Linked DNA regions of Homo sapiens. The main gene of each other region encodes a partner of the protein of the gene in region 3 in a complex. Each region holds a gene or a part of one and is shown on either strand. Other genes may lie near its edges.

Region 1 (11,088 bases), on a different chromosome or scaffold from region 3:
TCCTATCCCTCCAGGGAACACCGAGGAAAAAGAAATTAGAGAAAGGAAGGGCAGGTGAAGAAAAACTATCATAAACCTCGTCTCAGAGCACACCTTATCCATCTTTGTGTATGACCTCTCCAGGTCTCCTCTATTCTGCACCCCGTCATGGTTTTTGGGGTTTCTTTAAACGTGGGACTTGGCATCTGGCTGTGCTGGCTGTGCTGATGACTGGACTCATACTGTTGGTGGAGTTCATTTTGAAGCTGGATCTTATCCCTTGCTTTTGTCTTAGCCGTTGTGATGATACTGAGTGCAAGAGGTCAAGAGCAGAGTTCAGGACCCTCTCCAGCAGGCCTTCTATTCCGCAGGGACGTCTTGGTTCTTGCTTTGTGCTGGACACCATTCACATGTTGAGGGTGAACACACAAAGTGCCAAACTCCCTGCCAGATCTCAGCCATCTCACCTGAGTGGACAGCATGACAGGCTTTTATCACTTGCCCAGAGTGGTCATCAGCGCTCCGCCTGCCCCTGTGGCTCCAGAGAGGCAGGATATCTTAGGCTCTAAAGACAAAAACCCATAAAAACTGGGGATTTATATGGGGAACTTGATGGGACTTGGGGGATTTTCAACCCTGAACACATCTGCTTCACGCAGGGCCTTAGCTCTTCCTGGCATAGCTTCTGGCCAGACCACAGCAGTCCAGAGCAGAAGTGCCCTCCCCAGACTGCAAAAGCACCCCCCAGGTCTAGTTCTCTTCCCTGAAGAGAAATAAGAGGCTAAAGTGCTGCGTACACTCCATCCCAGCCTCCCTTCACTCCCCTTCACTGCCCGCCTGACTCTCCTCCTGCTATATTACTCACTCAGTCTGCGTTTTCTCTTCCAAACCCAGTGCCCTCCTTTTAAATGAGGCAGGAGGATCGCTTCAGCCCAAGAGTTTGAGGCCAGCCTGGGCAACACAGCGAGACCTCATCTCTAAAAAATAAAAATAAATAAATGATTTCAAATATCACAGTGTTCTCAGCCAGGGATTTCGCAAAGTATAGCTGCCATGCCAAATCTGGCCACCATGTACTAATGTAAACACAGTTCCATGGTGTGCGTGCCGTCCATGGCTGCTTTCACACCACAACAGCAGGGTCCAGTCATTTCCGCACAGACCGTGTGGCTCATAAAGCCTAAAATATTTACTATCTGGCCCTTTACAGAGAACATTTGCTGACCCCTGCTCGAAGCTAACCAGAATGCATCCTGAGAATCGGATTTGAGGTTCTATCAAATGTAAGTGTTGCCTGGGAAGATGGTTGAACAGTAAGAAGTCTGGGGAGTGTGACTTAGGAGTGACTGTCACAGCAACCACAGACACGTAAGTTAGAAGCAGGCTCTGGAAGGACCTGAGAGCTCTGTGCAAACACCGGGAAGCTGTCACATGTGAGAGGCACCTGTTTATTTCCACTGTAGAGGGCAGAAACTGTCTCCTTTGCCATCGCATCACTCACCCAACACACTGCATGGCATGGGGGCAGGAGTATAACGAACTACCTGTTGAATCAATGTACAAAAAAGTCCAGTAGATGTCTTCAGATATTCTAGCAGGTGAAAGTAAGGAGAAACATAATGTTTAATTCAACGTTGGGGAGAGCCCTAACTATCAGAATTATCCAAAAGCAGAACTTTTGGATTCATCATAAAGCCATGAGCACCTTCAGTCAGCAGAGGCCAGTGAAATGGATGGACATGACCACATAAAAAAGATACTGAAGAGGCCGGGCATGGTGGCTCATGCCTGTAATCCCAGCACTTTGGGAGGCCAAAGTGGGCGGATCACCTGAGGTCAGGAGTTTGAGACCAGCCTGGCCAACATGGTGAAACCCCATCTCTACTAAAAATACAAAAATTAGCTGGGCGTGGTAGCACGTGCCTGTAATCCCAGCTTCTCAGGAGGCTGAGGCAGGAGAATCACTTGAACCCAGGAGTTGGAGGCTGCAGTGAGCCAAGATCATGCCATTGCACTCCAGCCTGGGCAACAAGAGTGAAACTCTGTCTCAGGAAAAAAAATAAAAATAAAAAGGATGCCGAAGAACCCATTTTTGCCCTGGTGGGAAATTAACCTAGATGACATCACAGTTCTTTCCTGTCTAGAAGCCTATACCTTCACTAGCTCTAGGCTTGAACTAAAGAAAAAGTGTATGTTTCCTATCTAAAAGTAACCCCTCAAAAATGTTTTTTTTTTTGTTTTTTTGGGTTTTTTTTAGATAAGGTCTTTCTCTGTCGCCCAGGCTGGAGTGCAGTAGCACGATCCCAGCTCACTGCAACCTCCACCTCCCAGGTTCAAGTAATTCTCTTGCCTCAGCCTCCTGAGTAGCTGGGACTACAAGCGCACGCCACCATGCCCAGCTAATTTTTGTTTTTTGGTAGAGACAGTGTTTCACCATGTTGGCCAGGCTGGTCATGAACTCCTGACCTCAAGTGATCCGCCCACCCTGGTCTCCCAAAGTGCTGGGGATTACAGGAGTGAGCCACCGTGCCTGGCCCCCAAAAATGTTTTTTCTCCTTCTAATCAGACTTTGTCTAATACTGGGCATTATCCTTGTACATATTTGTTATTAGATTGATAGCTTTATTTTTAATACATATTACCCTGCATTAATATTTCAGAATAAGAATTTACTGCTGAATGCATAGCTCAGGTATACACATATACCCAAGGATATTTATTCTGGGTTCATTGATTTGTGCTAAACTAACTAAATCTCATGAGTAAAATTCATTAGGTACTTCCACTGTTTGATTGATGATGACACACCATGCCAATGAACTCAAAGGCAATTTCTGACTCCCACTGATAAAGATTCAAGAATCCGAGCCCCAAGGCAAAGCACCAGTACTTTTTCCTATAATCGGATTACAGCAGGCACCCAACTCCAGGGCAGGGATCTAGTCATTCTGGAGCCACCAGCACCAACCACGATGTCTGCCACTCAGGGCAGGGGCTGAAACAGCATGTGACCATCAGACAGAAAGCAACACCTTAGCGCCAGCAAGGGGACTCCAGTACCTCTGCTGAAATCTTTGGGATCCAGCGACAGACTGTAGCCGGGCAGCGTTTCCAGGAGGAGTTTGTAGCAGGCCCTCCACCCAGGCTCCGCGATGCTTGGGGCCACGCACTGCATGGCGGCCACGCGCTTGAAGAACGCAGACTTGCGATGGAAGCCGATCAGCTCATAGAGCTCGGAGAGGATGCTGTAGCGCTGAATTTTCTCTTCCTCAGAAAGCTGAAGCACAGAGAGAAAGTAAAAAGCTTTTGAAAGAAACGTATAAGTGAAAAAAGAAGCACACATTAAAAATGTCTCTTCATAAAACAAAGACCTGAGGAGAATCGAGGAGAATCAAGGAGAGGGAAAGCCTGGTGAGCAGCGCATGGCGCAGGCCCCAGGTGGCTTCAGACCTTCCCCAGCCACAGCTGCAGGTGCAGCCCATCTTCCTGCTGATAAAGCCCAGATTCTCTGCTACAAAGGTACCTGCTACAAATCTGAGACCTCTACTTTAAGTTCCTTCACAAAAGAAAAGAAAAGGAACAAGAGTTCATCTACACAACAGGATTTTATCAAGGTCTCTCATCAAACACAAAAATTCTTAAAACACAAGAAGACACAGAATCATGTAACTGGGTAATGAATTATTAACAATACCACTGATATCAGACTTAAGACTTCAGGGTTTACAAAAGTTTTCTTTCATCCAAGACCCAACTGAATCCTCCCAACAACCCTGTAGTGTAGCAATCATAACTTCTGTTTCTTTTCTTTTTTTTTTGAGACGGAGTCTCACTCTGTCACTCAGGCTGGAGTGCAGTGGTACGATCTTGGCTCACTGCAACCTCCACCTCCCGGGTTCAAGAGATTCTCCTGCCTCATCCTCCAGTGTAGCTGAGATTACAAGCACCCACCCCCATGCTGGCTAATTTTTGTACTTTCAGTAGAGACGGGATTTCACCATGTTAACCAGGCTGGTCTCGAACTCCTGACCTCAGGTGATCTGCCTGCCTCAGTCTCCCAAAGTGCTGGGATTACAGGTGTGAGCCACCACGCCCAGCCAACAACTTCTGTTTCTTCAGCACCTACTGTATGGCAGCAGACTTAACGTACCTGATTTACTCAATACAAGCATCCTGTGAGCTGGCAAATAAGGACATTAACAGCTCAGGGACACATTAATCACCTGTGCAAAATCACACAGCCAAGAAGTATCAGGGACAAGACCTGACTCTGGGCCTGGGCCCTGCCCACTGCACAGCGCCTTCAGAGAAGAAGGAAGGCAGAGCCCACTCTGCTGCTCCAGGAGCACTGTTAAGGAAGCGCTTCTCTCCCTCCTCTGCCCTGGACGATGAATGTTTCCCTGATGTTTCTGTGAGTACAGAGCCTTAGCTTGAACGCCCTTCCAACTTGGGCCTCCAAACCCTCCCTCCATCCCCTCTCCTCCGCGCTCACTGCCATGGCCTCGATGGGGCCCTCGTCAGCCCTCATCTGGAAGAGGAATCGGCATTGTCTTCCTACCACCTCTCGACCTTCCTTCACCTGTCCACACACCCCTGCCAGACTTAGGTTCCTGAGACATGGCTCAGAGCCCATCACCCGAGCCACGGTTTGAATGTTTGTGCCTCCCCAAAATTCACATGTTGAAAGCCTAGCCCCCAAGGTGATGGAATTAGGAGGTGGGGACTTTAAAAAGTGATTGGGTCAGGGGGTGAAGCACTCACAAATGGAATTAGTGCCCTTATAAGAAGAGACCCTAAAGAGCTAGCTCACCTGTTGCACCATGTGAGAACACAGAGAAAAGACGGCGGTCTATGAACAAGCAAGTGGGCCCTCCCCAGACACCAAACATGCTGGCACCTGGATCATGGACTTCTAGCCTCTAGAACTGTGCACAATACATTTCTATTGTTTATCAGCCACCCAGTCTGTGGCATTTTGTGACAGCAGCCTCACCGGACTAAGACAATCCCCATCTTGAAACCACTAGACCCCTTCAGGACTGTAAAATGGAGCCCAAATGCCTTCACGGGCATGCCAGGCCCTCCTCAGCCCCAACCTGCTCTGGAAATTCGAGGCCCCACTGCCTACCTATGACCTCACCAGACTGAACAACTTTAACTCATTTGTTTTCTCATTCTGTCAACACATATTTACTGAACCCCTACTCTGGTGCCAGCCACTCTTGTGGCAGAGGATACAGCAGTGAGCAAAACAAGCTAAGACTCCTACCCCTGGGGGCCTCCATGCTAATGACAGGCTAGTCCCCTGGCTTAGAATCAGTGGGGAGGATGACAATAAATCAATGAAAAAATAAACAAAATAGCTGCTCTAAGTCCAATGAAATACTCTTTGACATAGAATCATGGGTGGAAGCGTATGAGGCAGGCTGTACTAGGTGACGCCGCCGGGGCACACAGGCTCTCTGCTCCTGCAATGCCTCCACAGCCACATCTGGCTCTCCCTTTGGACACTCGGTTCCAATGCCACCCTCTCCAAGAAGCTGGTCCTCATGCCCTTCAGCGGGAAGCTGCTGCTTCTTTCCCTAAATTCTCCTAACCATGCTGGACTCCATAATGTCCTTTCTCTGTGTCTCCCACACAATTTACCTACATATCGGATCTCTGCCAGCCCCACTTTTCCTACAGTGAAAGGTCATGCCGACGCCGACGATGTGTGAGAATCCCTGTTGCTCCACCTGCTCACCAGCATATGAGGATATCACCTGCTCACCAGCATATGAGGATATCACCTGCTCACCAGCATATGAGGATATCAGTCTTTTTTATTTTAGACGTTGTGGTGGCTTTAACTTCCATTTCCCTGAAAACTAATGATGTTGAACCTTTTTCATATGATCACTGGCCACTGGTATATCTTCCTTTGTGAAGCGCTTGTTCAAATCTTCTGACAGTTTTTAAAATTAGATCGTTTGTTTTATTACTGAGTCGTACGAGTTCTGTATATATTCTGAATGCAAGTCCTTAGTTATATGTGTTTTGCAAATATTTCCTCCCGGTCTGTTGCCGATTTATTTCCCTAAGGGAGTGTTCATAAGCAAAAGCATTTCTCTGTGATGTAGCTCAATCTATCAGCTTTTTCTTCTATGGTTAGTGCCTTCTATGTCCTCATCTGAGAAAAATCTTTGCCCGAGGTCACAAAGATATCCTATGTTTTCATCTAGAAGTTGTTGTCTAGGTCTATGGTCCGTGAATATTCAAATTTGAGTAGGACATGGCCTGTCCCTTTCCAGGAGTGTGCAGTACAGCAGCGAACAGAAGCCCCAGTGCTGGAGGACAGCAGCCAGGGACGGGGTGGAAGAGGACTGTAAAGAGGAGGCAGGGGTTGGCCGGGCGCAGTGGCGCACACCTGTAATCCCAGCACTTTGGGAGGCCGAGGCAGGCAGATCACCTGAGGTTGGGAGTTCGAGACCAGCCTGACCAACATGGAGAAACCCCGTCTCTACTAAAAAATACAAAATTAGCCAGGCGTGGTGGTGCATACCTGTAATCCCAGCTACTTGAGAGGCTGAAGCAGAAGAATTGCTTGAACCCAGGAGGCGGAGGTTGCAGTGAGCCAAGATTGTGCCATTACACTCCAGCCTGGGCAACAAGAGTGAAACTCCATGTCAAAAAAAAAAAGAAAAGAAAAGAAAAAAAGAAAAAGAAGAGGTGGGGGTACTTAACGCCTTCATCACAAATCTGGAAATGCCCAGACCTTCAGCTGCACCCACTATGTGCCAGACATGATCAAAGATGTTGGGGCAGAGAAGGGGGCAGAGAAGACGAATACTGATCTTAGCCAGTGCCTGTAAAGAGGTCACCATCTAAAATAAAGGTGACAGCCGGGGAAGGTCACATGCCTTGGCCACCAATGCGTTAGAACTCCCATTGATTCTTTCATGGAACCTATCTAAGATGAAAGGTTGTAAATAATACTATGATCAGTAATAATATTACTTCATTCCTCTTATCATTTCAGTGTAATAAGAAGTCAAATGATAAATACTACATTGCAAATGGAATTGACATCACTTTAAAGCCCTAAAACGGTTCCTTAATGGGAAAAGCTCGAGCGCAACTGCTTTTGGGCACTAGGCAGACAATTGACTGAGAAGCCATGAGCCCAGAGAGCCTCAGGACAAAGCCATGTTTGGTCGACACAGGCACCTATGGCACAAGGAGCCGGGGAGTACAAAATGGTCCCTGGCAAAGCTAGGCCAAGATCCTCAGGAAATCTTGAAATGAGATGAAATCCCCAAACTCATTTCCAACCTGCTGCTCTTTTAGGGCATATTAATCAGCACATCTTTGTTCTAATCTTTCAATAGGCTGCACAGTCACGAAGTCCAAGTTCAGGGCCCAGATGTTTATGTGAGGTTCCAACGAAAGTGGCTCCAAGACTACTCAAGACAAGGAGCTTTATTCACAAGGCAGACTCTGAGGGATCCAAATATTAACTCACCATTCCATTTCCAAGTAGAAAGTAAGTTTAGACCTGCTTTATTCTGTTAATAAGAAATAAAGTGACAAGATCAGAGGGAAACTCCAGACACAGGACTTGTCTCTGGCAGGATGGAGAGGGAGGAATACAGCCTGGAGCTGTAAAGTCCTGAGTTCCAGGGCCACATCTGCATATCCCTAAGAAACAGGGATCATCAAATCTAATTACGATTGTCAAAAAGACTCAATGAAATAATGCAAACACTGAGCATAAGCCTAAAACTCTCAGTGAGTGTTCAAGAAACAGAAATATCACTGTTAGTTAATGCCTTTGACACCACAAGTTCTAACCCCAAGTTAACCAGCCACTGATGCTCTAGAAAATGCCTTAACCCTCATCAGCCTTCTCAAACGTGGGCACTTGCAGTGATCAGAAGAACAAGTCAGTGACAGATGTGTAGGGGCAGCCTGGTGGCCGCACTCAACTAAATGATGACCGTGGGAGAATGCCGGATGGGAAACAGCAGGCCCCACACATTCCCAGGTTTGAAAACACACTCTGCTCCTCTCTCCGGCTATTTCCAGCCATAATTACATGGAGAGAAAATACATCTTCAAAATTATACAAACTTTCCATATATGTCTATCAAAAAAGTTTGTTAAAAACATAACCTACTTTCTCATATCCCGGAGTAGGGGTATGAGGCATGCACCAAGGATTTTCCTTTATAAAGCATCTGTCTAAAGTAATTGGATCCATTTTCAGTTTTAATCATTCAAAAGTAAGAATGAAAACAAAGCAAAACAAAACAAAAACTTCAATAAGACCTGGTCCCTCAAAACTTCATGAAGTAGTAGAGGAGATAGGTCCATAAAGAATCACAGTGTTGGAGGCCGGGCGCGGTGGCTCACGCCTGTAATCCTAGCACTTTGGGAGGATGAGGTGGGCAGATCACAAGGTCAGGAGATCAGGATCATCCTGGCCAACACAGTGAAACCCCGTCTCTACTAAAAATACAAAAAATTAGCCAGGCGTGGTGGCAGGCACCTGTAGTCCCAGCTACTTGGGAGGCTGAGGCAGGAGAATGGCGTGAACTTGGGAGACGGAACTTGCAGTGAGCCGGGATTGCGCCACTGCACTCTAGCCTGGGCACAGAGCAAGACTCCATCTAAAAAAAAAAAAAAAAAAAAAAAAAGAATCACAGTGTTGAGGCCAGGCAACGTGGCTCATGCCGATAATCTCAGCACTTTGGGAGGCTAAGGCAGGCAGATTACCTGAGGTCAGGAGTTCGAGACCAGCCTGGCCAACATAGTGAAACCCCATCTCAACTAAAAATATAAAAATTAGCCGGGCGTGATGGTGGGTGCCTATAGTCCCAGCTACTCAGGAGGCTGAGGCAGGAGAATCACTTGAACCTGGGAGGTGGAAGTTAGCAGTGAACCGAGATCGCGCCACTGCACTTCAGCACAACAAGAGCGAGGCTCCATCTCAAAAAAAAAAAAAAAAAAATCACAGTGTTGGGAAGAAGATGGATGGAGAGATGGCTGAAACAGGGATGCTGTGCCCTATGCCTTGGACAGATACCTGGAAGGTTCCTAGACTACCAGGTATACCCACCACATGCTAGAGGAAGGACACTTTGTAAACAGTCAGTGCCCTTGTTGAGTGCACCATCCAAAAGAGATGGCCAAGCAAAGTCCGCGCTTGACCCCTGATCACCTCAGTTCCAGCCTTTGATTCATTCTTGGATAACCTGAAAAACCCACTCCTTTGGCTTCAAGAAATACTGCCTATTTTACCATCTTTGGGTTTAGTGAGCAAGCGAGTTCATGTGTACTTTAAAGATGATTTGAACTCTGACTACAGCTTTTCTCCACATTCATCTTTCCATACCAGAGTTCTCAGTTTCTTTTTTTTTTCTTCTCTTTTTTTGAGACAGAATTTCACCCTTGTGGCCCAGGCTGGAGCGCAGTGGCGTAATCTCGGCTTACTGCAACCTCTGCCTCCCAGGTTCAAACAATTCTCCCGCCTCAGCCTCCTCAGGAGCTGTGATTACAGGTGCCCGACGCCACACCCGGCTACTTTTTGTATTTTTAGTAGAGACAGGGTTTCGTCATGTTGGCCAAGCTGGTCTCAAACTCCTGACCTCAGGTGATCCGCCTCAGCCTCCCAAAGTGCTGGGATTACAGGCATGAGCCACTGCACCCAGCCAAGTTCTGAGTTTCTTTAAGTCTGTTCTCCATAAAATCTAGTCCCTCCAATGACAACTCATGCAGCCTGAAATTAAAAGCCAATTAAACAAGACCATACACAGCTAAAACGTCCCCCACCCCCCATCACTCCTTTCCTAAACTCCTCTCCTGCCTGTCCGAAATAGACTAATGCCTTCCGCACTACACTACAAAACACTAATGATGTGTTGTCAGATTAGATGGACACGGTGGTGCACACCTGTAATCCCAGCTACTTGGGAAGCTGAGGCAGGTGAATCGCTTGAACCCGGGGGGCAGAGGTTGCAGTGAGCCACGATCACGCCACTGCACTCCAGCATGAGTGACAGAGCAAGACTGTCTCAAAAAAAAAAAATACTTTGGGATACTTAAATGAGACCTTGGGAGAGAGGCAAAGGCAGTGTATTTGGGGTCTAACATCTCAATCCAGAGCTTCCGTGAACCTTTTTCATGTTTTCTGTTCACTGATTCATTCAGAACGTAGCTTCTCACTCCAGAAGGACTTATGTTTTTCTGCCAGGAGTTTGTGGTCACTCTTATACCAGGACAACTTTAAACTAAACCCTCTTTGGATTGGTTTTGTTTCCTTCTGTAATGCTTAATACTAAGCGTCAACTTGATGGGACTGAAGGATGCAAAGTATTGATCCTGGGTGTGTCTGGGAGGGTGCTGCCAAAGGAGATTAACATTTGACTCGGTGGGCTGGGAGAGGCAGACCCACACTTCATCTGCTGCCAGCGCAGCTAAGAATATAAGCAGGCAGAAAATATGAAAAGACGAGGCTGGCCTAGCCTCCCAGCCTACATCTTTCTCCCATGCTAGATGCTTCCCCAACTAGAACATTGGACTCCAAGTTCTTCATTTTTGAGACTCGGACTGGCTCTCCTTGCTCCTCAGCTTGCAGACGGCCTATTGTGGAACCTTGTAATCATGTGAGTTAATACTTAATAAACTCCCCTTTATATATGTATATATCCTATCAGTTCTGTCCCTCTAGAGAACCCTGACTAATACACCTTCCAACAAGATCAAGTTTCCTTATTTTCTTACTTTAAGGACTGAGGTATTTTCTATTTCATTCTTTTGCTAAACGTGTCGTTTAGGGGATCTTGGCTTTACACATGGGTCTGCCATCCAACTCCCAAGTCTGGGCAGGTCTAAGGTTTATTTTCTATCCCTCCTATGTGAGCACTGAAAACTGTTACCACAGCTAGGCAGGGCATTCTCTGGCTTCCAAGGCCTACTGACTTTCAGAATTCCTGCTTTTGGGAAAAGGATTTCCTTTTCCTTTCTTAACAATGAGCTTTGCATTTTGAAAGATGTTGGGGATGGGGATGGGGGGATTTTTATCTCTTAATCAGAATTTTAAGGAACTTGTGCTGAGAGTTTTTGGACCAC
Region 2 (10,460 bases), on a different chromosome or scaffold from region 3:
GTCCCGCAGGCAGAACTATCATAGCCACGTTCCCTGCCAACTGTCAGCGCACCCGCCAGACAGGTGACAGCCGTGTTTCAAAACTCACATGCCTGCTGTGATCATTTCCACAGTCCCTTCATCTTCATCACACAGAGCCTCCTTTAGAGCACCAGGGCCTCCACACAGCAAGGGGGCTGGGGGTTAGGAGGAGAGAGAATGGGGCCCAGTGGGAATTTCCAGTTCTGAAGGAAATCTGTGTTGTAAGCAAGATTGAAGTCATTTGTATTCCAGAGGAGTTTCTCACATAATCTAAATTAAGGAGGGGCAGAAGCAACTGATCTTCAAACAGAAGAAGCATTATATTCATACTTCTTAGAATTACTTCACTCCAACTTAGATTCCACCTCAGAATCTCTTGACTTGGGTCTTAGAGGGTCCTCACTGGGACTTGGGACTGAGAGGGTCCTCACTTGGACTTGGGTCTGAGAGGATCCTCACTTGGACTGGGAAAGTAGCTGTGGTGCGCAGGTGCAAGTCCAGCAGCCAAGCACAGACGAGGGGCCTGTGCTTGGCATTGGGGCAGCTGAGCGCAGGGTGGTTCTGCAGTGTCTGTGGCCAGTCCTAGGCCTCGGTGTCCTGGACCAAAGGTCAGAGCCCAAGGTGATCAGGCAGGAGAAAGCCTCAGCCACTGCAGGAGTGGTGGGAAGTTGGGATAAACCAGCCACCCCAGGCAGGACGAAGGGGGACGGGATGCAGGACCACTCACCGCTATGGCTGAGAGGACCTCAGCAAGAACCAAGGTCACCTCTGACCGAGTTCCCAGAGAGCAGGAACCCAGGGCAGGGTGGGGAGACGCTGAGGTGGAAGAAGGGAAGGAAGGGCCAGGGAAGCGCTGTGAAGCTGGGAAAGACTTGAGCACGTTTTACAGAGGGGCACGACCCCAGGCTCCAGGAGGGGTGCGGGCACCTTGACCGTCTCGACGAGGAGGGTGGTTTTACGCACACAGCCACGTACCAGCATCCCTCAGGTTGTACGATCTGAAGACATGCAGGTTCCTGTACATCAGCCATAGCTCAACAGAGACCTTCAAATAGAAAAAGAAGAGACTGACTTCTGGCTGCCAGCCTGAGCCGTGGAGTGTGCTGGCTACAGTCAGGGAAAGAGTGGGGAGAGCGTCCTCCAGCCCCTGCCACCCTGTGAGGCCTCATCATGCTGATGTGACACCGAAGTGCAAGCAAAAAGAAAATGTAGGTAAGTGGGATTTCACCAAAACTAAAAACTGTTGTGCTTTAAAGGACACCATAAAGAAAAAGTAAAAAGACAACCTATGGCATGGGAGACATTGCTTGCAAATCCCGTATCTGATAAGAGACTTACATCCAGAATATATGAAGAACTCTTACAGCTGCTAAATTAAAAACGATTCATGGCACTAGCATGCAGCAGGGGAGAGACTGGACTCAACTCTGACTTCACGGAGGACAGGTGGGAACTGACAACCAGGGACCAGGGTCAGGGTCAGCGTCCCTGGTTGGAAAATCACCCAGAGGAAGCTTCAAGAAGGGGTTTCTGGCCAAGCAGACTTGATAGGATCGTTGCTGACAGCCGGCCAGGGTGGTAGGATCTCCAGGTGCTAAGACACCGAGGGCGGGGACTTTTCTTAAACTGACTTAGCAGGATTCTTGCTCACACTGGATTCTACAAGGACAGAGAAGGAAGGCAAGGTCAAGCTTGTCTGGTAGAGGAGGCTTCTGCACGGATGCAGCCTAATTTATGCATTGACAGCCTGCCTGGTTCCCAGCAGGCCCTCGGGTTCTGCAGAGAGAGCAGGTGAGGGGGGGTCAGGGGAAAGGAGAGCACCCCTGGGGCCGGCTCTGCTGTGCTCACGCCGGGACGGGAAGAGGAGCTGGTGAAGGAGAACTCAAGAAAAACATGGAAGAGAAGCTAGGGTACTCTGAAATAGATCGCATCTTTCTTTTATTCGTTTATGTACATTAGCCTGGGGGGATTTGCCCAGTTGGAATGGAACAGTTTTTCTGATAAGCTTTAAAATACAAGAATGTTTTATAACATAAAAATTTAGACTAAAGTTTTCCGTGTTGGTTTTTGGGTAGGGTTTTTCTGGTGGGTTTTTTTGTCTGTTTTTGAGACGAGGCCTCGCTCTGTCACCCACACTGGAGTGCAGAGGCGCAAATGCAGCTCACTGCAGCCTTGACCTCCTGGGCTCAAGCAATCCTCCCGCCTCAGCCTCCCGAGTAGCTGGGAACAGGAATGCACCACCATGCCCAGCTAAGTTTTTTGTAGAGAGGGGGTCTTGCCATGTTGCCCAGGCTGGTCTCAAACTCCTGGCCTCAAGCAATCCTCCTGCCTCTGCCTCCCAAAGTGCTGGGATTACAGGCATGAGCCACTGGGCCCAGCTGAAATGAGTTTTCTGTATCAATTGCAGACCTATGCTTCTGTGACTAAAGTTGATCAGTGGTAAATATGAAAAGAACTGGGTTTTCTAGCTGACTACAGATTTAATATCATCTAGCAACCTATGTGGCTGTTAACATAGCTGTTCTGTCTTTGGATGGTTTAAAATCATCTGACTCCCACACCACAGAGAAGAATCATTCTTGCCTTCCTCTCCAGTCAACAGCTCACAGCCATGGACTGCAGGACACTCCGCCTTGAGAACACTTTAAAATGGCCATTGCCCATCTGTAATGGCTTCCGTGCCACCAAGGTGATGAGGAATCCCAAAACTGTGACAGAGAAGCAGGTGAAGGAGCTGAGAACTGGAGCTCTCCCCCACCCCTCAGTGCCTGTATTAGTTGGGGCTCTCTAGAGGGACAGGACTCATAGAATAGATGAATCTATGAAGGGGAGTTTATTAGGAGAATTGACTCTCGATCACAAGGTGAGGTCCCACAATAGCTGAGGAGCAAGGAAGCCAGTCCAAGTCCCAGAACCTCGGCAAGTCTGCTCTTTCCAACTTCTGCCTGCTTTATTCTGGCTGTGATGGCAGCTGAAGAGATGGTGCCTACCCAGATTAAGGGCGGGTCGGCCTCCCCCAGCCCACTGACTCAAGTGTTCATCTCCTTTGGCAACACCCTCACAGACACACCCAGGATCAATACTTTGCATCCTTCAATTAAATTGACACTCAGTATTAACCTTGACAGCGCCCAAGGAGGGGAGGGCCAGACCCAGCGCACAGTTCCAGTTTCTGCCACGGAAACACTGACCATGTGTTGCTCTTAAGGTCGGAGCTCCAGGGCGGCGTTTCCCCGGGTTTCTGCGTTTATAAGTGATGTTAGTATCTGGTTTGCGTGTGCACAGGTGACATCTCAAAAGGATATGGTGGCTGTTTTCTGTCTTCATATAAGTTAGAAGCTTGCTTTCTCTCTCTCTGGAAAACTTGAGTAATGTGGAATGATCTATTCCCTGAAGGTTTGAGTATTCACCTAAGAATTGCCTTTGCTGAGCACATGAGGTGTGCTGTGTGCTTTTCCTAATTTATTATTATGAATCTGCCTTAGTGTTGTGTGCCTGAGGATTTTTCTGTGTTTCTGGGAACCATTTTGGTAACTGAGAGTTTTCTAGAAAGCCACCTGTTTGGTCCCTGTTTTCTCGTGGATTCGCACAGAGTAAAAGACAGTGCTCTTACCATTATTTCCATTTCCTTGTTCTGCCTGTAGCTATTTCTACTTTTACATTTCTGTTTATGCTTCCTTTTTCTGGATTAGTTTATACACTGTTTTTTGTCTTTTTCTTTGTGAGACAGGATCTTGCTCTGTCTGCCAGGCTGGAGTGCAGTGGCACAGGTATGATTCACTGCAGAACTCCTGGGCTCAAGAGATTCACCTGCCTTAGCCTCTCATGTAGCTGGGGACCACAGTGCTTACGGCCACACCTGGTGCTTACAGCCACACCTGGCTAATTTTCTTTTCTTTTTTAATGGAGACAAGGTCTCACTTTGTTGCCCGGTCTGGTCTTGAACTCCTGAAATTCAGCGATCCTCCCACCTCGGCCTCCCAAAGGGCTGAGATTACAGGTGTGAGCCACCATGCCCAGCCACTGTATTTCCTTTTTAATAGTGTCTTTTACTGATTTGTTTTCTACATATTCTGGAATACTTTTAATTGCATTTTTATGTTTAATTTTTTCAGTTGCTCCTAACTTTTAGAAATCGGTAGGATTTTGTATCCTAATTACATTTTAATAATTCTGAAAATGTCAAGTTACTTTCTAATCATCAGGAAAGTCAGTGGGTAGCAAAGAATATCCCAAGATTTCTCTGTTATCTTCCTCTGAGACATTGAGTAAAGTCCCATGCCAGCCTCAGGAGGCCTTGCAGTGCGGAGGATCAGCACACGGTCTGGGCGTTGGACAGCCTGGGTGTTGACCACAGTGTTCTGTGTTAGCTGTGTGACCTCAGAAAATTGTCTCATCTTTCCAAGCCCGACGACTTCATCTAGAAAGCGAAGCTAGCGACAGCATCTGCATCCCAGGCTGTCGCGAGGGTCAGGCGAGCTGTGCTTGTAAGCGCTTGCCACGGCCGCCGGCACACGTTAATCTTGATCGGTCTTGATGATGGGCTGTAATCATCTTCAGTTCAGTGTCTCACACGGTCCTGTTAGACAGGAGATGCAGGCGTTCGAGCTGAGGGCCGCGTCACGGAGCCCATGCTGCCTTCGGTTTCTTTTTAGTCCGCAAGTGGGAAATCGATAGTAGTGGACTTCAAACGGCTTCGGACTGTGCAGACGACGGGCAGCGATGGACAGATGCCATTCAGTGTGTGGTGTGTGTGCACGCCTGTGTTTTCTCTTGTTTCATTCTGTTTTTTCTTCCTCCTCGTATGGTATTTCTTTTGTGGGATAACAGCAACAGTTGTGAAGGGCCTGAGATGTTATCCTGTTTCCAAGCTGTGGAGTTAGCTGCCACTTTCATGGATGCTGGCAAAAAATGTAAGATTCCTACGTTAGAGAGGAAGGCTATTTATTACACAGCAACAGCAGTACAGCCAGAGTGGCATTCTTCCCACCAGCCACGGGGCCCTGATTCCTCAGGGTCTTCACCGAGGGCCTCATGAGGCCTGCAGTGGGCTGTGTGGCTGGAGAGGAATCCTGAACTTAGAACACCCAAATCCTTGCTACTGGGAGGCGAGCCTGCCTGCCCTTTGCCCCAGAGGGATGCAGTTTAGCTTACAAGGCTGTCCTCTAAACAGGCATCCTTGTGTAAATGCTTTGAACAAAGCCTTGTCACTGTCTGTGCTTGGAAGACATGCAGAAACATGACACCCATGGAGAACCATCTCCCCACCAGTCATCTGAGAAGTTAGCAGGCTTGTTTTAATGCTGGACAGATGCTTGGCGTGGACAGTCTAAGAGTTAACTAGGCTGCTCAGTATGATAGTGATGGGTGCCCCAGCCCTCCTCATGGAGGTGAGCCGCGCGCATTCAGCTTGTTTCTCATCGAGACAGAGGACAGCATTCTGTTAAGTTTCTGCTGCTGCCATGATAACAGAGCTCGCTGTCACATTCTGGCTCCCGCAGGCTGTGCCCCGGACACAAAGCAACTCTGTCTTTACCCTCGTGAGCGCGGCTTGGGCCATAATAGGACTTTTCTTTCATTTGTATCTATTTCTTATTGTAAGCCTTAGATCATTTATTCCCTTCCTTACACTTCTAGAGGTGAAAGAAAACCCAAGTCTGCCTTTGTAAAACCAAGCTGTGGCCTCAGGAGTCAGGGCTGGGGCACTCAGCCTTCCACCCCCCAGGCCTCCTCTGCCACAGGCCTGCTGCATCCGGCTGCATTTCAGTCGGGCAGCCGGTGGGTTTCCTGACATGCGTGATAAGAGTGGGTTTGAGTTTGGTTTGGCTTGTTTTTTACAGTTGAATTCTATATTATTTGGTCAAAATATTACTTTGCAATTTGCAAATGTGGTGGCACCTACCATTTTACTAGCCACAAGTAACTCATAAGTTGACGTAGGACCTGCTCATATTATACCAATATTTTAAGTATTTTATGTTTCATCTTATTAGTTATTCATTTTATTTTATCTAATGCTCTGCCAGAATTCATTCCAAAAGGTAAAAATTACTAAACTATAAGACTCTTAAATAAGGCGTGTATATTAGCAACTTAGTTTCTGACATATAGAACATTAACATTCCACTGTATCTTAAATGTCTTTTGCCTTTTTATTAAAAAATGATTAAATGGTTACTGAAGTTTTCCTCTGCCTGACATATAAATGTCTTCATATTCTAACATGATATTAGGGAACTAAATATATGAGTATAGACTTAATATTTCTTTTGTCAACTAAACTGACTAAATTTTGTCAAAGCAGATTGGAGACATAAAAACAGCTGAAAAGTATTTTCAAGACGTTGAGAAAGTAACACAGAAATTAGATGGACTACAGGGTAAAATCATGGTTTTGATGAACAGGTAAATATTTTAAAACTAAATATATGTTTTCTCAAATTTCCCAGAGGCGTTCAAGCCCCACTTACTGAGTTGGAAAGCTCCCTAGAGAAGGCGCTTCTCCCTGTATCTCCTCTTGCCCTGTGTCTCTCAGAGCGGAGACCCAAGGAGTATACAGGTGTTTTCTTGAATCGCAGTGATGTTCTTTTAGTCACAGAAGCTGATTTTTAAGGAGCTATTCCCCCTTGTTCTTCAGAGAAGCGCTTGTATTGCCCCCGTTTTCAGCGTATGTGTGTGTAAAGGTCACCATTGCTGGCGTAGCGGCCGTTCTGGATCCTGTGCTCTGGTGTTCTGTGTCTGGATCCCGTGCTCTGGTGTTCTGTGTCTGGATCCCGTGCTCTGGTGTTCTGTGGTAGAACGCACAGCGTCGTGCGAGTGCACGTTCGTGAGGAGGAAACACGCCTTGGACAAAGCCTGCAGCCAGGATCAGAAAGCGTAAATAAAGCAGGTGTCCGCTTTTAGCAGGAAGTCATTTAGGTGAAGTTACTCTATCTCAATTAACAAAAACTAGAGTGGCTTGGCCGGGTGCAGTGGCTCATGCCTGTAATCTCAGCACTTTGGGAAGCTGAGGCACGTAGATCACTTGAGGTCAGGAGTTTGAGGCCAGCCTGGCCAACATGGTGAAACCCCATCTCTACTAAAAATACAAAAAATTAGCCAGGCGTGGTGGCAGTCGCCTGTAATCCCAGCTACTTGGGAGGCTGAGGCAGGAGAGTTGCTTGAATCCAGGAGGCGGAGGTTGCGGTGAGCCGAGATCGTGCCACTGCACTACAGCCTGGGCAACGAGAGCAAAACTCCATCTAAAAAATAAAAATAAATAAAAACTAGAGTGGCTTTAATGTGCGAGCCTGAATGCAAAACGCAGCTCACCGCCTCTACCTGGAGATCAGGAACCCCGGGCCACACAGGGCCATACGCTGGGTCTCTGTGGGATCCAAAGCCCCTGTGGGTTGTGTTGGGGGACAGCAGCTCCTGGGCTTTCCCCGCTAACTGCCACCGTTGCTTGTGTTACAGCGCGTTCCTTCACCTCGGGCAGAATAACTTTGCAGAAGCCCACAGGTTCTTCACAGAGATCTTAAGGATGGATCCAAGAAACGCAGTGGTAAGATCCCCAAGCTGCAGGATCCTCCATCCTCTGCCTTTCACAGACGCTAGAAACATACACCCACACACGTCTCAGCAGGGGCCTGCGCTCTCTCTCTCCAGTCCACCAGCTCCAGGCAGTGGCTGTGGCCCTTAGGGGAAGTGACCCAACAGGGCCACCTAGGCTCTGCCCAGCAGCTCTGCACCACCCCCAGGCCCCTAACACGGCCCAGCACGCAGCCTGGAATGGGCGGGCGTCTGTCCTGGTTGTGTGGGCCAACCCTGGGCGTGTGCTCCTCCCTAGGCCAACAACAACGCTGCCGTGTGTCTGCTCTACCTGGGCAAGCTCAAGGACTCCCTGCGGCAGCTGGAGGCCATGGTCCAGCAGGACCCCAGGCACTACCTGCACGAGAGCGTGCTCTTCAACCTGACCACCATGTACGAGCTGGAGTCCTCACGGAGCATGCAGAAGAAACAGGCCCTGCTGGAGGCTGTCGCCGGCAAGGAGGGGGACAGCTTCAACACACAGTGCCTCAAGCTGGCCTAGCTGCCTCCAACACACTACGTCAGAAGGACCCGGGTCTTTGAAACTGTGTCTTGAAGCTAATGTATTAATGTGACATGGAGGAACTCAATAAAACTCCTGCTTCACTGGTGTCTGCTGCGTGTCTTCTTGGTCCCAAGCCACGGCCCAGCCCAGGACTTCCCCGCAGTTGGTCGGCGTTCAGCCACGCAGTCCCTGCAGCTGGGTCACTGTTCATGAATGCAAGGGGCAGGCGTGCTGGGAGGACACAGCTCGTAGACAGGAAATCTGGAGTCAGCCTCGGGGCCTCTGTTCTGGAGGCCAATCCTGCTTTGCTCGTTCCTTCTGGACATCCTCAGAGAAAAGCTGGGAGGTGTGGAGACCCTCTCGCCGTGCACCTGCACGTACAGGGAGATTTACAACAGGGAAGACACCCCCCACAGATCGCCGCTCATGCTCCTCTTGCCCTCCCCACACACCCAAAACTAAGTGCGTTGGTCTTACCCATCCGAGTCTCCTCCAGCCTGATGCCAGCCAAACGACCCCTGCCAGCCTGGCGGTGGAGGAGAGGCCATCACTGTTTCTCCCATAGTTTATACGTCCACGTGGAGAGTGAGCTGAGTGGAACAGGAAGCACGACGCATAATGAAGCACAGGAAGAGCGCGTAAAACGCAGGCAGGCAGGGGCTGGGGGTGGTTTTGAAGCCAGACACGTGTTTTCATGTGTTCTCTCATGCCTGAAAGGCCTTTTGCCCTTACGTTTACACAGTTATTCCTGCTTTTGAAGAACTTAAAGTACCTGAAAATGTCTTCACTTTACGAAAGAACTCTGCCAAGGGTTCTCTAAATATCTAGCTTTGTGGATAGTTTTAAATATAATTCATTTTACAGACTGTGATATAAACATTTGCACAAAGCGAAGCCATATTTCTGTTAATTTTTGTAATAGAGTAGAAACATACAAACACTGCATCTACCAGACAGTCTCAGCCCATTTGCTGACATCTAGATTAATTATGCATTAAAAGAAAAGAAAAAAGAGGTGAGACAGCCAAAAGGACTGTTGGACACCAAGGAGGTTTCAAGATCTTTCTCTTCAAAAAGAGAACTGAAACTATTGTTAAGCCCAGAAAGATGAAGATGTAATTAGAAGCCCTCCACCTTGAGGGTCTTCCTTCAAATGTGACTTCAGGGATGAAGTGTAAGGCTCTTCCTCTGCTCCAACCTGGCACCTTACTGCAGGCATCTTACAGGATTTGCCAGAGGATTATGGAGCCCGTCCTTTACAGGCTCGGGGCTCAGAGCTGTCCCCGGCCAGTTGTGCGGGAAAGCAGACAGCAGTGCCCAGGCTCCAGCTAGACATGAGCCCGGCAAATCAGAAACAGAGATCAAAGTTCCCTAGTAAGCTGGTAAGCCTAAATCCACCCTCCCTCCCAAGCCCCACCCCCATGCTGCTGGCATGAGGCCAGGCCAGGTGACAGTATCATTGCCTCGTTTCTTGCCTGGATTATTTCTTCCTGGTTTTTTTGTTTTTTTTTTTTTTTTTTTTTTTGAGACAGGATCTTACTCTGTCATCCATCCAGGCTGAAGTGCAGTGGTGCAAACATGGTTCACTCCAGCCTCAACCTCCTGGGATCAAACGATTCCCCACTCTCAGCCTCCTGAGTAGCTAGGACCACAAGTGTGCTCCACCACGCCCAGATTTTTTTTATTTTTATAAAGATGGGATCTCACTATGTTGCCCAGGCCAGTCCCTAACTCCTGGCCTCAAGTGATCCTCCCACCTCGGCCTCCCAAAGTGCTGGGGTTACAGGTGTGAGCCATGGTGTCCAGCTAATTTTTTTTTCCTACTGCCTGTATGATTGCAGAATTTTTTGTTTTGTTTTGCTAGAAGAGGAAAACGGTGCTGTGAGTGTCTATAACGTCTGGGACAATTGTAGCTTATCTAGTTTACACTTAGCTTTTCTTTATGTTAAAAATAAATTATACATCCCAGAAATCTTTTCTAGAGCCAATTGAAGTGAATGGCTAACGATCAGAAAGCTTATTTTCTAACTGGAAAATGGGAACTCGCTGAGTTGATGATGGGCTCACAACTGTGGAAATGCCCACCCTGGAATGCACAGTGGAGAATGAAGAAGCCAGTAACCCTGATGGCATCGTTACCGAATGGCCAGGGTGTGCCAGGCGGCAAGGGTGGATTTGCTCCCTGAATGATCCATCCAGCTGAATCTTGAGTCATTCCGCGTTTGCCACGAGGGGCAGTGTTAGATCAGTGGTCCTCAAAGTGGGGTCCCCGAAGCAGCAGCACCAGGTTCTCCTGGGAACTTGACGGAAATGCACATCCTCAGCCACATCCTCTGATCACAGAGGAGTCAACTGCTGGGGCCTG
Region 3 (11,136 bases):
AATTGAGCCACATTGCACAGACCATGGGATTCAAAAACGACATTAGTAATGATGGTGGGGAATGCAAGACCTTCCTTTTAGAGGGGACTATGTTGGGTTTTTTCCTAAAAACAAAAAAGGGAAAACCTGGGCTCATAGGATAGAAAGCTTTATAAAGTAATTATTCCTCTGGAGTTTAAAAAAAAAGAACTATTATTAAATATACATGCAGTGTATTACATGAAAATGCCTAAGGCTTTCTTTATGCACCACTGTGACCACTGTCTTGATAAACTCCACACACACAACAGAACAAAAAAGACACACACACACACATAGAGAGAGAGAAGGAAAGAACACATGCCATCACAATGCCATTACCTTGGGTCTACATTTGGGATACTCATGGTCACCTGGGAGCACCTTGAAAGAAATTGGTACTCGATCAGCTCTCCGATTTGCACAGAAGGCGTCCCAGACAGCTCGATGGACTGCATTATAAACTACATCCAGGCCCGTTAGAGTAACAAAGGCCATAGGCCGGCAACATAATTCCACAGGGAAGTCCCACTGTGTGGGGCTCATGTTTACGATGTCACAAAAAACCTGAAATACAAATGTTAATACATTCATAATTAATTTTTAAAAACTCATATTCATTTCTCCAGCCTGGGCAACAAGAGCAAAACTCTGTCTCAAAAAAAAAAAAAAAAAAACAACTCATATTCATTTCCAATATATGAATCTCTATTTAAAAATCATTACAAAAAAATAATCATTACAAGGCCAGGCATGGTGGCTCACGCATACAATCCCAACACTTTGGGAGGCCGAAGCAGGTGGATCACTGGAGGCCAGGAGTTAAAGACCAGCCTAGCCAACACAGTGAAACCTTGTCTCTACTAAAAATACAAAAAATTGGTTGGTCGTGGTGACTCACGCCTGTAATCCCAGCACTTTGGGAGGCCTAGGTGGGCAGATCACGAGGTCAGGAGATCGAGACCATCCTGGCTAACACGGTGAAACCCTGTCTCTACTAAATATCCAAAAAATTAGCCGGGCGTGGTGGTGGGCGCCTGTAGTCCCAGCTACTCAGGAGGCTGAGGCAGGAGAATGGCGTGAACCCGGGAGGTGGAGGTTGCAGTGAGCCAAGATGGCGCCACTGCACTCTAGCCTGGATGACAGAGGGAGACTCTGTCTCAAAAACAAAAAACAAAAAATTAGCTGGACATGGTGGCACACACCTGTAACCCCAACTACTTGGAGGCTGAGGCAGGAGAATCACTTGAACCCAGGAGGCGGAGGCTCCAGTGAGCCAAGATCACGGCACTCCACTCCAATCTGGGTGACAGAGTGAGACTCTGTCTCAAAAAAAATAAAATAAATAAAATAATCATTACAAAAAGGCAAAAGGCTTTGAGTATCTGCAAACTGTCAAACAAACAGAAGAGAGAAAAAGGGAAAACTTTAATTCCTGAATTAGATCTATTAAAATGTAATAACTATATGACATTTAAGAAAAAATCTTTCATGTTAAAAATGAAGTCAACTTTAAGACAAATCGGCATTTTCAGTAATGTCTCAAAATGCACACAGAACTTTGAAATTAGTAGACCAAGAAAGCAAGAAGGTGATAAAATTAAAATAGATCTACATGATCTATTTCAACTATAAAAGAAAAATATATTGAAAGAAAAATATAAAAGAAAAACAGTTGACTTACATATAATAAACTTCCCCTAATTTCTCTGTAATTGCTAATATTGAATTTCTGAATACCTAGGATATTATTAAAATAGCCTTTAATTTATGTAATTATCTAAATAGTAGCTATGTTGTCTCATTTCCCACAATATAAAATTTACTCTTTAAAGAAAAATCTGTAAGGGAAAAACTAACAATGAATGGAAACCTCTCGGAGGATGTTTCCACTGCGTCCTTTAGCTAAGAATCAGTCCATAATAAATCTAACGTATGCCCTGACTTTATAAGTATATAAAACTATGTTTATCCCGAACAAGACTGTCATTATATTTTTAATATAATCTTACTTGCAAAAGGATGTAACAACATGAGGTTCTTTTTTTTTTTTTTTTTTGAGACGGAGTATCACTCTGTCACCAGGCTGGAGTGCACTGGCCCAATATCAGCTCACTACAACCTCCACCTCCCGGGTTCAAGTGATTCCCCTGCCTCAGCCTCCCTAGTAGCTGGGACTACAGGCATGCACCACCACACCCAGCTAATTTTTTGTATTTTAGTGGACAGGGTTTCACCATGTTGGCCAGGATGGTCTTGATCTCGTGACCTCAGGCGATTGCCAGCCTTGGCCTCCCAAATGAGGTTCTTTTAAAAGATAATCTATACCAGCATATTACAGAGAATTCAGGTAAGGCACAAGTGGCTCATGCCTATAATCCCAGCACTTTTGGAGGACAAGGCCAGAGGATTGTTGAGGCCAGGAGTTCAAGACTGGCCTGGGAAACATAGTGAGATCCTGTCTCTAAAAGAAATAAAAAAGAAAATAGCCGGGCATGGTGGTGCTCACTTGTAGTCCCAGCCACTTGGGAGGCTGAGATGGGAGGATCACTTGAGTCTAGGTGTTTAAAGTTACAGTGAACTATGATTGTGCCACTGCACTCCAGCCTGGGTGACAGAGCAAGATTGTGCCACAAAAAAAAAAAAAAAAAAAAAAGTTATTCCAAACAAAATTATCACTACATTTTAAATATAATCTTATTTGAAAAAGAATGTGTCATGAGGCTCTTTTAAAAGGTAATCTGGCCGGGCGCGGTGGCTCACGCCTGTAATCCCAGCACTTTGGGAGGCCGAGGCGGGCGGATCACAAGGTCAGGAGATCGAGACCATCCTGGCTAACATGGTGAAACCCCGTCTCTACTAAAAACACAAAAAATTAGCCGAGTATGGTGGTGGGCGCCTGTAGTCCCAGCTACTCGGGAGGCTGAGGCAGGAGAATGGCGTGAACCCGGGAGGCGGAGCTTGCAGTGAGCGGAGATCGCGCCACTGCACTCCAGCCTGGGCGACAGAGCGAGGAGACTCCGTCTCAAAAAAAAAAAAAAAAAAAAAAAAAGGTAATCTACACCAGTATACCAGTATATTATGGAGAAGTCTAACACAATCTTTGTGAAAAGTGAGGCACACTTAGGCTAATACCTAATCCCCAAAACATGGAATATTTTCAACTGAAAGGTTAATTTAGGAAAGACTATTAGTCTTCTCATGTTTACATACTGAAAGAACAACAGGTATTCAATAAATGATTTGCAAAGCTTGCCAGAAATGTCTACAACAGATTGTTTTAGAATTGTTTAAATATTTTTAGGACAGGATTAAGTTATGAGGGCAAAGGATTGCATGTTCAGAGAAAGAAACAGTCTAGTTCTGGGTAATGTAGGAATGAAAATTAAAAAGGGGTGACCAGGCTGGGTACAGCGGCTCACGCCTGTAATCCCAGCACTTTGGGAGGCCAAGGCGGGCGATTCACGAGGTCAACGGTTCAAAACCAGCCTGGCCAATAGGGTGAAACCCCGTCTCTACTAAAAATACAAAAATTAGCCGGGCATGGTGATGCGTGCCTATAGTCCCAGCTACTCGGGAGGCTGAGGCAGGAGAATGGCTTGAACCCGGGAGGCGGAGATTTCAGTGAGCCGAGATCGCACCACTGCACTCCAGCCTGGGCAACAGAGCAAGACTCCGTCTCAACAACAACAACAAAAAACAAGTGACCAAAATACAATACGGGCCCCTTTGCTTAATATGAACGAGTCTAGACTAGAGGCCATTTCCTGTAATAACTCCAGAGGCCCAAAAGACATAGCTGTGGTCTTTAAATATGGAGTTGAAATAAGAGGAACTAAAAATGACTGTCATCCAATAGAAATACAAGTCACATAAATAAATTAAAAATTTCTAGCAGTCATATTAAAAAGTAAAACGTGGATGGAATTCATTTTAATATTCAATTTAACGCAGTACAGTATGTCCAAAATATTATCATACTGACAATAATATAAAAGTTATTAATGACATATTTTACCTTTTTTTGTACTGAGTCTTCAAAATCTGGTGTGTATTTCACACTCACAGCACATCTCAATTCAGACTAGCCTATTTCAAATGCCTGATGTAGCTACTGGCTACAGAACTGGACAGCAGAGATCTAAATTATGGGAAATGTGTCCCAAAATTGCTGCACGAAAATTGTATCAGAAAGTCTTGCCACATTCTCCTATGTCACCTGAAATGGTCGTGCTTATTCTGCAGCAAAGGAATTTGAATGAGAACCCCGATAACGCACAGGCGCAGATCGAATGGATTTCAATGACAGGCTGGAAGGAGAAATTTTCAGATATCCAATGGAGCAACCAACGAAACTATACACGAAAGGAGGCGCAGCTATAGAAGGTGAATAATGGATGGGAGATCAAGTAATGCAAGGGAAGTAAACTGGAAACTAGCGTGAAAGATAAGAAAGGTGACCCAATCAAATTGGCAACTAAAAAAACCCCAAAACCTAATGTGGTTACTTTTTTTTTCTTTTAACTAACTGGAAGTTCAGGGTGTTAGGACACAAGGCTGCTAAGAATGGGATTCAGAGATGTTCAACTACAAAACGAACAAAAGAGGAACGACAGTGTGGGGACGAAATGATGTTTCGATGTTAAAGATGAGAAGCAACAATCCAACGTAGGAGAAACACCGTCCCCATGGTCCCAGTATCTGTTCTGGTAGCTCCAGTGAGGAAAGGTAGAGAAATAACCTTGCAGTCCCTAAAGGCAGATATCTTCCTCCTCTTATTCCCCCGTCTTAAACCTGGGAGGCCCTAGAAACGGGTGCGTCTTTCCTCGGGTCTAAAAGAGAAGTGCCAGGATTGCACCCGTCGATGGGATTGCAAAACGCAGGCCCCCAAACCAGCATTGTTAAGAGCTAGCTCTCTTCCTCGGCGGTCCCGCCTGGCCCCGCGGGTCTCCGGGCCCGGACTCACCCAGGCCCCACGCCCCGGGCCCGCTGCAGCTGAGGCCGGTCGCCGCCAGCCGGGAGAAGACGAGGGGAGGCGGGGGGATGTCACAGAACGCCGTGGCCCGTCCCCACCGCCGCAGCCCCACAGCCAGTTCCAACAGGCGAGACTTCCCTGTACCCACCTCCCCCGGCACAGGAAGCACTTTCTGGGCCTGAGTGACCGCGCTCTACACCAATCGCTGTCCCGGAACTTTACGCCGCTCCTCCAAGCGTCAGGGAGACGCTGCACTTCCCAGGCCCCACCAGCCGCGGCTCCGGCTCGTAGCCCACAGCCCACTGCCGGCGGCTGGGCGCTGCCGAGGCTCGGGGCGCGCGCAGTTGGCGTCTGCCAGTGCCAAGACTGTGCCGCCCCCACAGCCGAGGCGCGAAAGGGGGACGCCCGGCCTCTGGGCCGCTGCCTTCGCTTTCTCTTCGTTGTTGCGAACGCCGTCCGCTCAGGAGGCGCCCCGCGACCGGCGCGATGAGTGCCAACGAGGACCAGGAGGTGAGCCCCCCGGCTCAGGGCCCTCTCCCAGCGCGGGCGCGGCGCGCAGCCCCGGGCCCCCGTGAGACCTGGTGCCCGGACAGCCTGCCCGGCACGTGCCCTGTGCCCTCGGAGCCGGCCGGGGTGCCCCGAGTTCACCGGCGTCCCACCCAAGCGCGCGTGAATGGCCAGGAGTCCGCCTCTGCCACTCTTCCCCCCTCATTTTTCATTTTTGCAAATCCGGGAGTCTCCCCTGGTTACTTAATAACAGGGATGAGCGTCCTTGGTGCACGATCCAGTGCTCTTGGCTCTCCTTGAATCCCATGTGTTCAGTGCCTGTTTACTGAGTTAGGCTGATCACCTTTAAATTTTAGTCTGGTCATCTTTAAATCTCTTGGCTAGTAGAGGGCTAATTGAGTTAGTTACATTTCTCATGGAAGAAAATGACACTGGTGGTGCATCTGAGTTTCTGTCCATATTGTTTGGGGAAATCTTTTACCCATCTGTCTGTTTTGAGCATTCATGTACCACCTGAATTTATGGTTTATGCTCAAATATTTCCTTGTGAGATGCCATTTTGACATTGAATCATATAATATTAGAGTTGGGGGGTGGGTGCTACGGGCCATCTGTAGGGGAACCTTCTAACTTTGATAGGTGGGTCGATGATAGCCGCAGGGCTGCACAGTAAGTACGTGGTAGAATCGGGACTAGAAACCAGGTCTTATTGGGTGGTAGATAAGTTCACTGTTAATTTAAAGTATAATGCTTGAAACTTACTACTTTTACATGATAAATGTAATAGAATCTCTGGATTGGAAGTTAACCTTTAAAGGACCCAAAGTCCAACAAGCTAGCTAGTTGATATCTGAATCTCTTCTAAAATATTCTTGCCGGGTGAATTTCTAAGTGAATGCGTTAATAGCTTCTTCTCCCTGCAAAGCAAAGAACATACAGTGTAATGTTTCTCAGAGTTGGACCATAGTCCCCTACCTTAGAACCATTTAGATGGTTGCTAGAAAACAGATGCGTGCACTCCACCCCAGACCTACTGAATCAGAATTTCTGTGGTGGGCCCAGGAATCTCCAGTTTAACAAGAAAATTTCATTCTTCTTTCAGATGACCGATGTTCTGATCTTTGAAGATAGTTTCCTGCCCAGTTTCTCAGACCTTCTCTGAGGAAGTGGTTCCTTTTAGCTTGTCTTCATATATCCATTCTTTGTTAATCTCTTCACTATCCTGGAATCACGTGTTTGTGGACAGATTTTAATTTTTTAAATGTCCTGTTTCAAAATTGTGGCATCTTGCTGTTTTGTCTAGTTAAATTTACTGTCAACTGAAATCTTTTAAGTGCTTTATACAAAGCAATTTGTCTTTCATCTTCAACTTCTACATTTAGGTATCTGAGTATTGATACAAGTTCTACTTACCCTGCTAAATTTCATCATTAGCTTGCTTTTCAAAGACTTTTTGGATTCTTATTCAGCCATCAGCATTATTCACTGTCCCAACAAATTGTCATCCACAAATTTAATAAACTTGCCTCCTATTTTTGTACCTGTCCAAGTCATAAATTAAAATATGGGAAAGGATTAGGGACAGAAGGAGTAGTACTATATCTTGAGTAAGGTTTTTGTTCCAATCTAATCTTAGTTATTCTTGAATCCGGCTTGAATTTCTGTATTTTGTTTTTTTTTGTTTTTTCTGTAAAGGTAGCAAGAGAAACCTGTGGAGCCTGGCTGAAATCTATATAGTCGGTGTTTTATGCCTTTCTTCATTGTGCCAATCAAGTTTCCCTATCTAAGAAGGGTATATCTTGTTTTTCATATACTTACTAGGTCTTAGGGTCTACTCCTTAATGTCCCAGTTCCTCACACACTGTTTCTTCAACAATGTCTTTTTGCTGTTGTTGTTGCTATTTTTGAGACGGAGCCTCGCTCTGTAGCCCAGGCTGGATTGCAGTGGCCCGATCTCGGCTCACTGCAACCTCCGCCTCCTGGGTTCAAGCGATTCTCTTGCCTCAGCCTCCTGAGTAGCTGGGACTACAGGCGCCCATCACCACACCTGGCTAATTTTTGTGTCTTTAGTAGAGATGGGGTTTCACCGTGTTGGCCAGGCTGACCTCGAACTCCTGACCTCAGGTGATCCGCCCGCCTCGGCCTCCCAAAGTGCTGGGATTACAGATGTGAGCCACCGCGCCCAGCCAATAATTTCTATTCTAAAATTTTGACTGTAGATCAAGCCCACTTTCACCATCTTTAGTTTGTAGAATTCATGACATGCATCTTTTTGAAAAACTTAAACGTGTACCCAAGTGCAGTCTTGCTTTACTTCTTTTCTCAGGTATTCATCGGTGATCACAGTGATGAACTTCTCAGTTGTAATACCAAAATGTTCTAAGAACTATGTCCAAGCAAGGATTACTAGTTACATTTTCTCTGACAGTCCTGTCTCATCTTGGGTAGATACTTGTCAGCCTTTTTCTTAAGTTCTTTTTCTTGCCCTTAGGTGTTTTTTAGAGCTTTGTATCACTGTGGGAAGGATTACATATAAAAGAAATGTATGTAAATAATGGGAAAGTATTGTTTTTCATAGTTCTTATCTTTAGGTTTAATGCTCTTTGCACCCAGGTTCGTCTTTAGCCAAGTTCTAAGAGCGCTTGCTCTGGAGTGGCTTTACAGGGAGACTTCCTTGCTTCCCTAGGAAGGAGAAAATAATAGGAGCCTCTTGACAGGGTTGATTTGAGAAGTCAGCGCGATCATACATTGTACAGTGCTTAGTAGTCCCTGACACAGAGTTTGAAAGTAAGTATCATTGGTAGTAATATTGTCATGTGTTGCTGCATGCACCTATGTGGTAAGTATCTAAGGTTATATAAGTTAGTCAAGCTTTTACATAGTTGAGTGGGCTTGAATGAGAAAGTAAAGACCCTCTATTTCTAATTCATTTATACCACTAAACAAAACTCATTCAGTTCTTTATTTCAGATGGAACTAGAAGCATTACGCTCTATTTATGAAGGAGATGAAAGTTTCCGGGAATTAAGTCCAGTTTCTTTTCAATATAGGGTAAGACATGGCATGAATAAGAGCACTTAGAACTTTTCTAGAAAAGACTGAAAGTGGCTAAAAATGCTTATTTTGTTTTTTAAACTTGTTTAAATTTATTATGTCTGTATTTTCTGTAGCATTTAAATGGAAACATCACCCTAACATCAGTCATTTTTAACGTTTGAAAACTTAATTCAGAAGCTTAAAAAACCAAGATAAACTTGTTTTTATTGTACCAGAATCATAAGATACTAGAAATGGAAAAAACCTTAAAAATTATTTAATCTTATCTTTAACATAAAATAGTAACAGTAGGGCTGGGCGCGGTGGCTCTCACCTGTAATCCCAGCACTTTGGGAGGCCAAGGTGGGCGGATCACGAGGTCAGGAGATCGAGACCATCCTGGCCAACATGGTGAAACCCCACTGTCTCTACTAAAAATACAAAAAATTAGCCGGGCATGGTGGCGGGCGCCTGTAGTCCCAGCTACTCGGGAGGCTGAGGCAGGAGAATGGCGTGAACCCGGGAGGCAGAGCTTGCAGTGAGCCGAGATCAAGCCACTGCGACAGAGCGAGACTCTGTCTCAAAAAAAAAATAGTAACAGTATTTTATTTTGTAAATAAGTCATATAAACCTTTTATTCAAATGATTATAAGTAGGCGGGGCACAGTGGCTCACACCTTTAATCCCAGAACTTTGAGAGGCCGAGGCAGGCGGATCACCTCAAGTCTGGAGTTCTAGACCAGCCTGGCCAACAAGGTGAAACCCTGTCTCTACTAAAAATACAAAAATTAGCCACGCATGATGGTGCATGCCTGTAGTCCCAGCTACTTGGGAGGCTGAGGCAGGAGAATCACTTGAACCCAGGAGGCGGAGGTTCCAGTGAGCAGAGATTGTGCCACTGCACTCCAGTCTGGGCGACAGAGCGGGACTCAAAAAAAAAAACAAAAAAAACACACAAATAATTATAAGTAGCGGAATGGGGAAGTTTTTTTTGTAAAAGATTTACAGTTATTATTAACATTGTCACAGTTTAAACTATTAGAAATGATTCTTATGCATGATCGATGGATGACCATCACAGAAAATAAGTTTCTGTTCTCAATTCCCTTTCAAGCTTAACAGTCCTTACACCATCTCCAAGTATGTAATAACCATGGACCTCAAATGTCCAAAGTTAACAGTGGAGCTAAGTCCTAGGCCCTTCGGTTTGAATCCAGTTGCTACTCTCTCCTTAGCAAATGGGAGGTCGAGAATTTCCCTATACTCTCCTAAATATCTCATTCACAATGGCAGTGATTTAGAGCATGTTGTGCAGAATGCCCTAGGACATTTATATGTACTATAAGATGGACACTGACGTGACCCATAGGATGGATTTAAGAAGAATGATACATGAGATTAGGAGACAGTGTGTTGATAGTCAAAGGGCCAGGGGTAAAGTTCTTCCTGTGGCCTGAGTCACACCCCTCAGTTCTTGCACGGAATAGTCTGGTAGCCTCCTAGTTGACTTCCCCGGTTTAATACTTTCTTTAGCTTCCCCCTTATACTCCACCATGAGTCCTCCAACAGTACTAGTTGGCACTCTGAAGCATTTAAGTTGTCATCCCATTCTCTTCTTTAAAAATGTTTTTCTCTGGGTTCCTCTTGCCTATAAAATGAGGACGAAATTTTTTCACTTGACACTCCAAATCCTTCTGTTTGTTTCTGTCTCCAAACTTTCCCCTCCACTCACATGCCTTAGACATAATGGGTTGTGACATTTCCCCCCGTGTATTTTTTTCTAGTACTATGCTTTTGCACACATTGTTTGATCTTTCTCTCACCTCAGGTCCATTATTCCCCTGCCTCTCCTTTAAGGCCTAACTCAGGCCTTCTCTGTGATACATTAATATTTGGGCCATGTCTCCTGTCTCTGCTCTGACTTTGAATCAGAATTAGCCGTTCCCCATTTCTTCATACTTTGTTTTGTTACTTTTGAACTATTATTCATATTGCAGTTTTGTAAGTTATATAAATATCTGTCTGAAGACAGGAATAGCCTTGTCTCTATCTTTGTATCTTCGGTACCCAGCACAGTGTGAGGCATGTGATAATTTATTCCTAAATGCGCCATGAGTAAGGACGTAGTGATTGCATCAAGCAGGTAACTTTTATCACTTTTTATCATCTATATTTAAACATAAACCAATGACATCTATTATGCAGATAATCCTTATCCAGGTCTATCAGTAGATCCCTACATTTATTTTAATAACAATACAGAGGAGATTAGCATAGCCCTGTGTAAGGATGAGATGTTGATTCATGTATCATTCCACCGTTTTACTAGAAGATCACCATTTTGCAACCACCAGTATGATAATTGATTCAGTTACAGTTAAGGACTGTTAATGAAGGCTAAAACCTTTGGGTGAAAGGTTGTTGAGAAACAAGGTATTCATACAGTTTTGTAGTGTTGCCCCACAGACGATGATGATTTTTTTTTTTTTAATAGAGACAGGGTCTTGCTGTGTTGCCCAGGCTGGTCTCTAACTCCTGGCCTCAAGTCATCCTCCCACCTCACCTTCTCAAAGAGCTGGGATTACAGACATGAGCCACCT

What was found.
Region 1: TRAPPC11 (region 3) and TRAPPC9 share a complex: the UniProt entries of both Homo sapiens proteins name them as parts of the multisubunit TRAPP (transport protein particle) complex.
Region 2: TRAPPC11 (region 3) and TRAPPC12 share a complex: the UniProt entries of both Homo sapiens proteins name them as parts of the multisubunit TRAPP (transport protein particle) complex.

Annotation. Positions count from the first base shown.
Region 1 is NC_000008.11:140,367,925-140,379,012, forward strand, and holds part of TRAPPC9 (trafficking protein particle complex subunit 9), read right to left. Parts: intron 3,257-11,088; coding exon 3,040-3,256; intron 450-3,039; exon of another isoform or gene 94-449; intron 1-93. UniProt on the Homo sapiens protein: Functions as an activator of NF-kappa-B through increased phosphorylation of the IKK complex. May function in neuronal cells differentiation. May play a role in vesicular transport from endoplasmic reticulum to Golgi.
Region 2 is NC_000002.12:3,471,370-3,481,829, forward strand, and holds the end of TRAPPC12 (trafficking protein particle complex subunit 12), read left to right. Parts: intron 1-6,325; coding exon 6,326-6,426; intron 6,427-7,223; exon of another isoform or gene 7,224-7,476; coding exon 7,477-7,564; exon of another isoform or gene 7,565-7,849; coding exon 7,850-8,092; 3' UTR 8,093-8,196; downstream 8,197-10,460. UniProt on the Homo sapiens protein: Component of the TRAPP complex, which is involved in endoplasmic reticulum to Golgi apparatus trafficking at a very early stage.
Region 3 is NC_000004.12:183,653,296-183,664,431, reverse strand, and holds the start of TRAPPC11 (trafficking protein particle complex subunit 11), read right to left. Parts: upstream 5,140-11,136; 5' UTR 4,985-5,139; intron 4,931-4,984; exon of another isoform or gene 4,037-4,930; intron 586-4,036; 5' UTR 565-585; coding exon 361-564; intron 1-360. Other genes in the region: RWDD4 (RWD domain-containing protein 4), read left to right, coding at 5,480-5,503, 8,471-8,551. UniProt on the Homo sapiens protein: Involved in endoplasmic reticulum to Golgi apparatus trafficking at a very early stage.